3 separate regions of the Homo sapiens genome follow, and regions 1 and 2 are each linked to region 3. Evidence: fine-mapped expression QTL. A gene starts in region 3. Each other region holds a variant in brackets. All regions are shown on one strand. Distances are from middle to middle. Region 1 overlaps LOC102724955 (a long non-coding RNA gene). Region 2 holds the start of CKAP2L (cytoskeleton associated protein 2 like). Region 3 holds the start of NT5DC4 (5'-nucleotidase domain containing 4).

What was found. PIP is the estimated chance that this variant, and not a neighbour inherited with it, causes the effect.
Region 1: its variant is fine-mapped to the expression of NT5DC4 in whole blood (TOPMed, PIP above 0.99).
Region 2: its variant is fine-mapped to the expression of NT5DC4 in whole blood (TOPMed, PIP above 0.99).

What each region holds. Positions count from the first base shown.
Region 1 is chr2:112,679,110-112,681,867 of GRCh38, reverse strand. It overlaps LOC102724955 (a long non-coding RNA gene), which reads right to left. Exons shown (of 4, transcript XR_001739643.2): 3 at 1,974-2,146; 4 at 732-860. Among named protein-coding and RNA genes, the nearest start is that of SLC20A1, 35 kb to the right of the region's middle. The variant A/G (reference allele first, on the strand shown) is at 1,485.
Region 2 is chr2:112,764,163-112,766,920 of GRCh38, reverse strand. CKAP2L (cytoskeleton associated protein 2 like) reads left to right here and starts at 2,312. Exons shown (of 9, transcript NM_152515.5): 1 at 2,312-2,359. The coding sequence starts at 2,323. RefSeq lists a silencer at 1,933-2,092 and an enhancer at 2,543-2,682. The variant T/C (reference allele first, on the strand shown) is at 1,511.
Region 3 is chr2:112,719,778-112,722,535 of GRCh38, reverse strand. NT5DC4 (5'-nucleotidase domain containing 4) reads right to left here and starts at 1,516. Exons shown (of 17, transcript NM_001393655.1): 1 at 1,383-1,516; 2 at 645-718; 3 at 433-550; 4 at 258-353; 5 at 1-53. The coding sequence starts at 1,456.

The sequences.
Region 1 (2,758 bases), 41 kb after region 3:
GAAAGCCAGCATTGCATGCCAGGCATTCAGAAAACGGCAGCAATATCAATGCCATTTTAATTATGCTTGCACCTCAAGACTGTTTTGTTTTGTTCGTTTTTTTGAGACAGGGTTCCACTCTGTCACCCAGGCTGGAGTGCAGTGGTGTGATCTCGGCTCACTGCGGCCTCAAACTCCTGGGCTCAAGTAGTCCTCCCTCCTCACTTCCCAAGTAACTGGGACTATAGGCCTGTGCCACCAGGCTGGCCTATCAGACTGTTTTATTTATTTGTTTATTTATTTTATTTTATTTTTTGAGACAGAGTTTTGCTCAGGCTGGAGTGCAGTGGTGCAGTCTCGGCTCACTGCAACCTCTGCCTCCCGGGTTCAAGCAATTCTCCTGCCTAGCCTCCCGAGTAGCTGGGATTACAAGCTCCCACCACCATGCCCAGCTAATTGTTCTATTTTCAGTGGAGACGGGGTTTTACCATGTTGGCCTGGTCTCAAACTTCTGACTTCAAGTGAGCCGCCCACCTTGGCCTCCCAAAGTGCTGGGATTACAGGTGTGAGCCGCCGCGCCTGGCCTATCAGACTGTTTTAAATCCAACACTTCACCTTAGGAGATCTCACCAAGAGTACAAGGCTCCAGCAATAAAACCCCAGAAATGGGTAACAGAGGCATTTCTACAAAGCCCCAAATCACCTCCCTTGTGCTTTATTTTCCTTCTCCTTCAATCACCTGCTGATTTTTATTGACTTTGAAGACCCTAGAAGCACAGGTCACAGGTTCTGTGGTAGGGACTCCGGTCTCTGAACACATGTAGAATCTCAGTCTCTGTGGTATCCAGATCTTCTGCCGGCTGCATGCTTTTCAGGAGGAGCTATTGCCAAAGCACACACCAAAATGGTTTCAATGGTCCGTAAATAATTTTCCATGCACTCAGATTCTCCTTAGGAGGAGCAATCCAATTGGCATCTAGTAGTCTCATTTGTCTTAGATTTGGAAATGCTCCCACCTTACTGGTTGGAAGTTTTCTCTGTGTGTGGGCACCTGGTAAACTGTCTCCGCTTTGCTTTCACTTTCCCCACCACTGCACTGGTACATTCCCTAATGTTCTGGCCGTGTGACCTTGGATTGCCTTCTTTACCTCTACAATGCCTTAGTCCTCTCATCTGTAAGATCAAACTTCCAGATTGAGTTATTGCAAAGAGTAAATAAGTGAAAGCAAATGAGTGTTAAATTAAAGCAGGCCAGGTGAGGTGGCTCATGCCTGTAATCCCAGCACTTTGGGAGGCTGAGGAGGGGGATCACCTGAGGTCAGGAGTTTGAGACCAGCCTGGCCAACATGGTGAAACCCTATCTCTACTAAAAATGCAAAAAGTAGCCAGGCTTGGTGGTACACTCCTGTAATCACAGCTACTCGGGAGTCTGAGGCAGGAGAACTGCTTGAACCTGGGAGGCGGAGGTTGCAGTGAGCCAAGATCATGCCACTGCACTACAGCCC[A/G]GGTGACAAGAGCGAAACTCTGCCTCAAAAAAAAAAATAAACAAAAAATTAATTAAGGCAAGCTATGACTAATTTCATACCACTGTAATTACTGTCTGATTTCCATTGGCCAATCCCATCTAAAAATGACATGACACGAGAAATCTAAATTATATCTATTTCATAATTACATATTTAATTACAAATTAAATATGCACTTAAAGCAAATACTAGAACGGAACATAGAAAAATAACAAGAGTAGATTGAGACTCGCAGGTAGGTGATTTATAATGTACCATTTCTATAACGGGAAAAGTAAACTCCAAAGAATTGTATTGGTTAGAACTAAAATTTTGAAATGCATTAAATATACATATTTTGTGATATCTATGAATGATAAAAACATCTTCCCTTCAGCACCTGCCTTAGCTAGAGCTCTGATATCTATTATTACATAACAATCTATATCAAAACTTAGTGGCTTAAAACCAGCAATTTATTTTGCCTACATTTGGAGGATCAGGGATTTGAGAAGGGCTCAGTTTGGCTGCTCTTCTCGGCTCACATGGCATCAGTTGGAGTGTTTCAGCTGGGGCTGTAGAATCACCTTCCAAGACTGCTTGCTCACACGGCTGGCAGGCTGGGGCTGGCTGTTGGCTCACAGCTCTGCCAAGGATGTTGGCTGGAGAGAGAAGGGGAAAGAGATCTTGATTCCTCTCCATGAATCTGCTTGGACTACCTCACAACACAGCAGTCTCAGGGTAGTCAGGCTTCTTTTATGGAAGCTACTTTTCCCCAGGGCAAGTGTTCCAAGACACAGGAAGTGGAAGCTGCCAGACTCCTAAGACCTGAACCTGGAAACTGGCAGTCGCTTCTACCAAATTCTATGACTCACAGCAGTTAGAGCCCATCCAGTTTTAAGGAGCGGGGACATAGATCCCACCTCTATGGGAAGAGTGTCAAAGAAACTGGCCATTCTTAAATTGTCACAGTTAGCCAGGCACCGTGGCACACCTGTAGCCTCAGCTACTTGGGAGGCTGAAATGGGAGGATCGCTTGAGCCCAGGAGTTGGAGTCTGCAGTAAGCTGTGATGGCACTACTGCACTCCAGCCTGGACAACACAGTGAGACCTCATCTCTTTAAAAAAATTTTTTTTAATTGTCATAGTTATTCTTTTCTTTCCTTTCCTTTTTTTTTTTTCTTTTTTTGAGACAGAGTCTGGCTCTGTCACCCAAGTTGGAGAGCAATGGCGTGATCTCGGCTCACTGCTACCTCCGCCTCTTGGGTTCAGCC
Region 2 (2,758 bases), 44 kb before region 3:
CCACAGTGCACTGCAGCCTTCAACTTTTGGGCTCAAGTGATCCTCCCACCTCAGCCTCCTGAGTAGAAGGGACTACAGGTGTGTGCCACCATGCCTGGTTAATTTTTGTAATTTTTTTTTTTTTTTTAAGAAACGAGGTCTTGCTATGTTGCCCAGTCTGGTCTCAAACTCCTAGGCTCAAGCAATCCTCTTGCCTCAGCTTCACAAAGTGCTGGGATTGATTACAGACATAAGCCACCATGCTTGGTAGAGTTGAGAATTTTTAAACCTGCCTAGCTATTTTCCCACATTTTGTGTCCTACAAAATAGACCGTCAAATACCCAAAGGATGGAAAAAAACGAGGCAGAACTGGCCTATGTTGCTCCAAAGGACTAGGACCAGTAAGCAAGGAAGCTCATTTGAGTTCATTTTAAGTTTCCTAATAAGCAGGGGTCTCCAATAACAGGACAGGTAAGGCAGCTCACCAACACCAGCAGTATACCTGCAAAGGTGCAGTACCTACATGGGGTCTGTGGAATACTCCAGCACTGCGTGGGATATCAGGCAAGGTGACTTCTACAACTGACATGCATTCAACCACCTAGATTCTACAAAGACCAAAACAAAACCGCCTTCACTTTTCTGAAACTGTTGGTGAAGGAGTCCCTTTCTCAGTCATTAACAAAAATAATGATCAGTTTTCCTATTTTAAACATTTAATACACTATTGAAAATATCAAAATGCATAAATCCAGAAACCCTGGCTCTCTTCCAAACTCCCTATTTACGGCTAAAGAGAAGGGCTGCTGCAGTGGCTTCATGCCCTGCTGAGTACCCAACTGGTAAGCTGAACCTGGCCAACAGGTGCCCAGATATGACTGCCCCTCCACACACGACTTCTCCAGCATCCATGGAAGAGGAACCTTCATACACAAGGAGCCAAAAGCATTTTCCAGACCTCTTTAAGAAACTGGAGAATAGATGAAACAGGACAAACTTCAAAAGAAAAAAAATTTAGGATTAAAACAAGGGGAATGAAGTGTGTCTAGGGATTCAGGACAACGAGGCCTGCGATCTCCTAGTAACTAGGAGAAACTAGGCCTGCGTTTCTCCGTTAGCCTTATGGCCTTATAGTCAGCTGATCAGGTGAAATCGAAAATATACCTTGAACAAGAGATCACCGTGAGAGGAGTAAGGCAGTTTCTCAAAAAATTAAAAATAGAATTGCCGTTTGATCCAACAATACCACTTCGTGGTATATACCCAAAAGAATGAAAAGGAGAGTCTCAAAGAGTTATTTGTGCATTCATGTTCATATTATTATTCACAATAGCCAAAAAGTGGAAGCAACTCAAGTGTCCGGAGAGGGATGGACCAAGAAGCAAAATGTGGCATCTCCACACAACGAAATGCTATTCCCCCTTAAAAGGAAAGGAAATTCTGACACATGCTACACATGGATGAACCTTGAATACTTTATGCTAAGTGAAACAAGCCAGTCACAGAACAAATACTGCATGATTCTACTTA[T/C]ATGGCACCTACAGTTGTCAAATCCATAGAGACAGAAACTAGAATGGTGATTGCCTGGGGCTGGGGGAGGGAGGAGTGCGGAGTTAGTGACGGGTACAGGGTTTCATTTGGGAAGATGAAAAAGTTCTGGAAAGGACAGTAGTGGTGGCTGTGCCACAATGTGAGGGTACTTAATACCACTAAACTGCACATTTTTGAAAAATTTAACACTTTAAAATGGTTAAAATGGTATATGTGATGTTATGCATATTTTACCACAATTAAACGAGCCACCCTGCAGTACTAAGAACTAGGAGCCTTTAGATGCATAAGACCCATATGTCCTCTTTATAATATTATTTTTTCACAGCTCCTGTGAGTCTGAGACTTTGAAAGGACAGAATCAGGTAGCGGCCCCAGCATCCTGGGAGGACCGCCCTGTCTCTCCGCCCAGGGACTCCCGGCGCGCCAACCCCAGCTGGATTCAGCGTAACCGCCCCCCAACCACCAGCCCGGCTGAGGCCCCCACGGAGGGTCCCACGCCCACTCGGAGGCGCACTCACAGGCGCACTCAGAGGCGGGCGGCGCCGCGCCCCGAGGAAGCCGCCCTCAATGCCGAGGTGCGCTGCACGTTCTTCCAATCAAAGGGCCCCAAGGTCGGGTTCTCAAGGCCAGAGCCAACCGCAAAGAGCCTATTGCCTGTTGTCCCGCCCTCCCGTGCTGACGACTAGCGAGTTTCAAACCCGCAGGAGCCAATGAGGACGCGTGGACGCGCGGCACGCCGGTCCTGGCTACAGGCGCGGCGTTTGAAGAAAAACTGTCACTGAAGAGTCATGGTGGGGCCCGGGCCTACCGCTGCTGCCGCTGTCGGTGAGTACGACCGCTGTTCCCGTTATTCTCAGGCGTTGGAACACGGCCGGGGAAGTAGGAGGCCACCGAGTGAGTTCGTCCCGCGGGAGGTGCCCGTCCGCTCGCCTGCCTAAGTTTCCCCTGGGCGTTTTCCATCCCGGGAGCGCAGACGGGACCCCCAGGTAGACGTCTGGGTCCTGGGCGGGGGAGGCTGTGCGCAGGCCCAGATACCTCACGGGCGTATTTCCAGAAAGCCCTGCAGCAGCCTTGCAAAGAGATGTCATTGTCACCACGTTCCGGATAAAGAAACTGAGGCCCCTTGCTCGGGTTTTCACCAGCAGTGGGAAGCTGCGCGCTGTTTTGATCCACATTTGGCTCCAGGCAGAGCCGGGCGTGGTCCTCTGTGCCAGGAGGCGGGGT
Region 3 (2,758 bases):
GAATGAACTTGCTGGGGTAGAAGCTCCAGATCTCTGCCCTGAGGAGGGGTAGGCTGGGTGCAGCCAATGACCCCTCCCCAGTGCCTCCTGGAGGCCTGTCCAGGCTCTGGCCATCCCTTCCAACCACCACGCATCCCTTCTGTGCTGAGCCTCCACCGTGGGCCTGCGTCCTTCCTCCCTCCCTCCCTCTGTCCTCCCCCAAGGTGAGCAGTCCTCCCCTCCTGGCCTGCCACTCTCCCGGCACCTTTGTCCCTTACTCCGAGAGGAAGGTGAAGCCATAGGCACCCAGCAGCACATTCCCGTGGGCGTCCACCTTCAGCAGGTTCCCATAGAGTTCATCGAACACCAGCCGCCTGCAGACGGGGGGTCGGGGGGCACTGTGGGTGGGGGTACCAAGGCCGGGTGGCCTCCCACCTGTCCTGAGCCACACACCTGGTGGGGAAGGTGGGGTCGTAGGTGTAGCGCAGGATCTCATGCGGGTACCCAATGCACACCAGGCGCTCCAGCAGCAGCTCGAAGGTCAGGGCCTCATAAGCTGGGGACTTGTAGGCTGCAGAGGCCCGGACAGAATCAGGGCTTTGGTGCCCAGCTGCCCACCCCTGCTCCCTCCAGCTCCCAATACGCTGTGTTCCAGCCCTCTCTACCAGCCAGAGTGTAGTCCATGTCGAAGCCAAAGCAACGAATCTTCCCCAGCGCCAGGCTGCGGTTGACAAAAATCCTGGGGAGAGAGAGGAGGATGTTGGCATCAGTCCACCAGCCCCCCAGAATCCAAGGCCCAAGGACAGAGGGGGTGGAAACCCCGCAGAGGAGGGCAGAGCACCCCCTGCAGCTGCAGAAAGCACAGGGGAAGCAGGTCAGGCCAAGCCAGGGCCCTGCCTGGACCCATGTGTGTCTGAAGGCAAGTGTGAGTGTGCATGTAAGCATGTGTGAGCATGTGTGCAAGCGTGCATCTGAGTGTGTGCGGGCAATCAGCCGCTTGCTGTCCCACCATGCAGGCATGTTATAGGCATCCAACCCTGTAAGAAAGTAGGTGCAGTTGTTGGTGTGAGGGTTGTCACCTTCTGAAATGGGACCCCAGTGTCCAAATTCAGAGATGATGTGTTTGTCACAATTGGATAGCACATGTCACTGTGTCCGTGGTGAAGGGGAGAGATCTTCGTGGAGGGAAGGAAGTGAAGAGGACCTCCCGCCGGAGTGTGTGTGGTCAGTTCCCTGATGGGTTGTTACAGCTATGGAAGTGCGTCCCTTGTGAGTGCAAGTGTACGTCTGCATTTTGGGAGTCCCCATAGCTGTGTATTTAAAGGAGCCCCTGTGTGCTGCTGTGGCGTGTGGGGTGTTTATGGGCTGAGACCCCTGGCCCCCACCCCAGGTGCCCATCTCACCGCTGGTGCCAGTCCTGCTTCGGGCCTTGAGGGGAGACCAGTCCCTCCGGCTCTCTCCAGTCTACACTGGCCATCGTCACCCAGAGTGAGGAGGAGGCAAGTGTCCCTTCCTCAGCCTCCTGCACACTATCAGTGGGGCCCAGCCACTCTCCTCTCCCTCAGAAGCTTCAGGCACCACTGACCCAGCTGGCCCCACCCTGTGCTCCCATCTCCCCCGAGCCCCTTTGAGGGAGGAGTCAGCCAGGACAGGCTCTGGTATCCCATCCTTTTCTCTAGAGCAAAAGCAGCAAGGATCTAGGAAGAGCAATTCATGTCCACTGCACCCTCCTCATTCCTAGGGCTTATGCATCCATGGACCTCAGCGGCCTGGAGAGTAGCGGAGAACCCAGAATGAGGCAAATGACGGGATACAAAGTCAGGAGGCTCCGTACTGTACTCATGATAAAAGAAATAACTCAGTACTCTTGCTTTATGCACAATTCTGACACATTTGGTTATCAAATTTCCCAGCTCAAGGCCATTTAGAGAAGACATTGCTAGAAGCATGCCAAGGGCTATAAGAATTGGGAAGATAACTGGGATCTCAGAATGGGGGGGTGGCAGAAAGTACAAAAGGAAGTGTCAAAAAGCAGAACCACTGGGGCCATTTAGTGTAGAGTTCTAAATACTCCCTGAGGGCCCATACCACTGGCTCCACAACCAAGCATGTGACTTCCATTTGGAGCGGTGACCTGGATCATCCAGAAAGACTTAACTGAAGTGCCAGGCCCTCTTTTAAAAAGAAAGACAAGGCTGGGCACAGTGGCTCACGCCTGTAATCCCAGCACTTTGGGAGGCCAAGGTGGGTGGATACGTGGTCAGGAGATCAAGACCAGCCTGGCCAAGATGGTGAAACCCTGTCTCTACTAAAAATACGAAGAAAAAAAAAATTGCCCTCTTGGGAGCCTGAGGCAGGAGAAAAAAAAAATTAGCCTCTTGGCAGCTTCTCGGGAGGCTGAGGCAGGAGAATTGCTTGAACCCAGGGGTTGGAGGTTGCAATGAGCCGAGATTGCTGCACTCCAGGCTGGGCAACAGAGTGAGATCCTGTCAATAAAAAGGGAAAGAAAAAGGAAGAAAGAAGGAAGGAAGGAAGGAAGGAAGGGAAAAGAAAAGAAAAGAAAAGAAAAAGAAAGAAAGAAAGAAAGAAAGAAAGAAAGAAAGAAAGAAAGAAAGAAAGAAAGAAAGAAAGAGAAAGAAAGAAAGAAAGAAAAAGAAAGAAAGAAAGGAAAGAAAGAAAGAGAAAGAAAGGAGGGAGGGAGGGAGGGAGGGAGGGAAGGAAGGAAGGAAGGGAAAGGAAAGGAAATGAAGAAAAGGAAAGGAAGAAAGAAAAGGGCCTG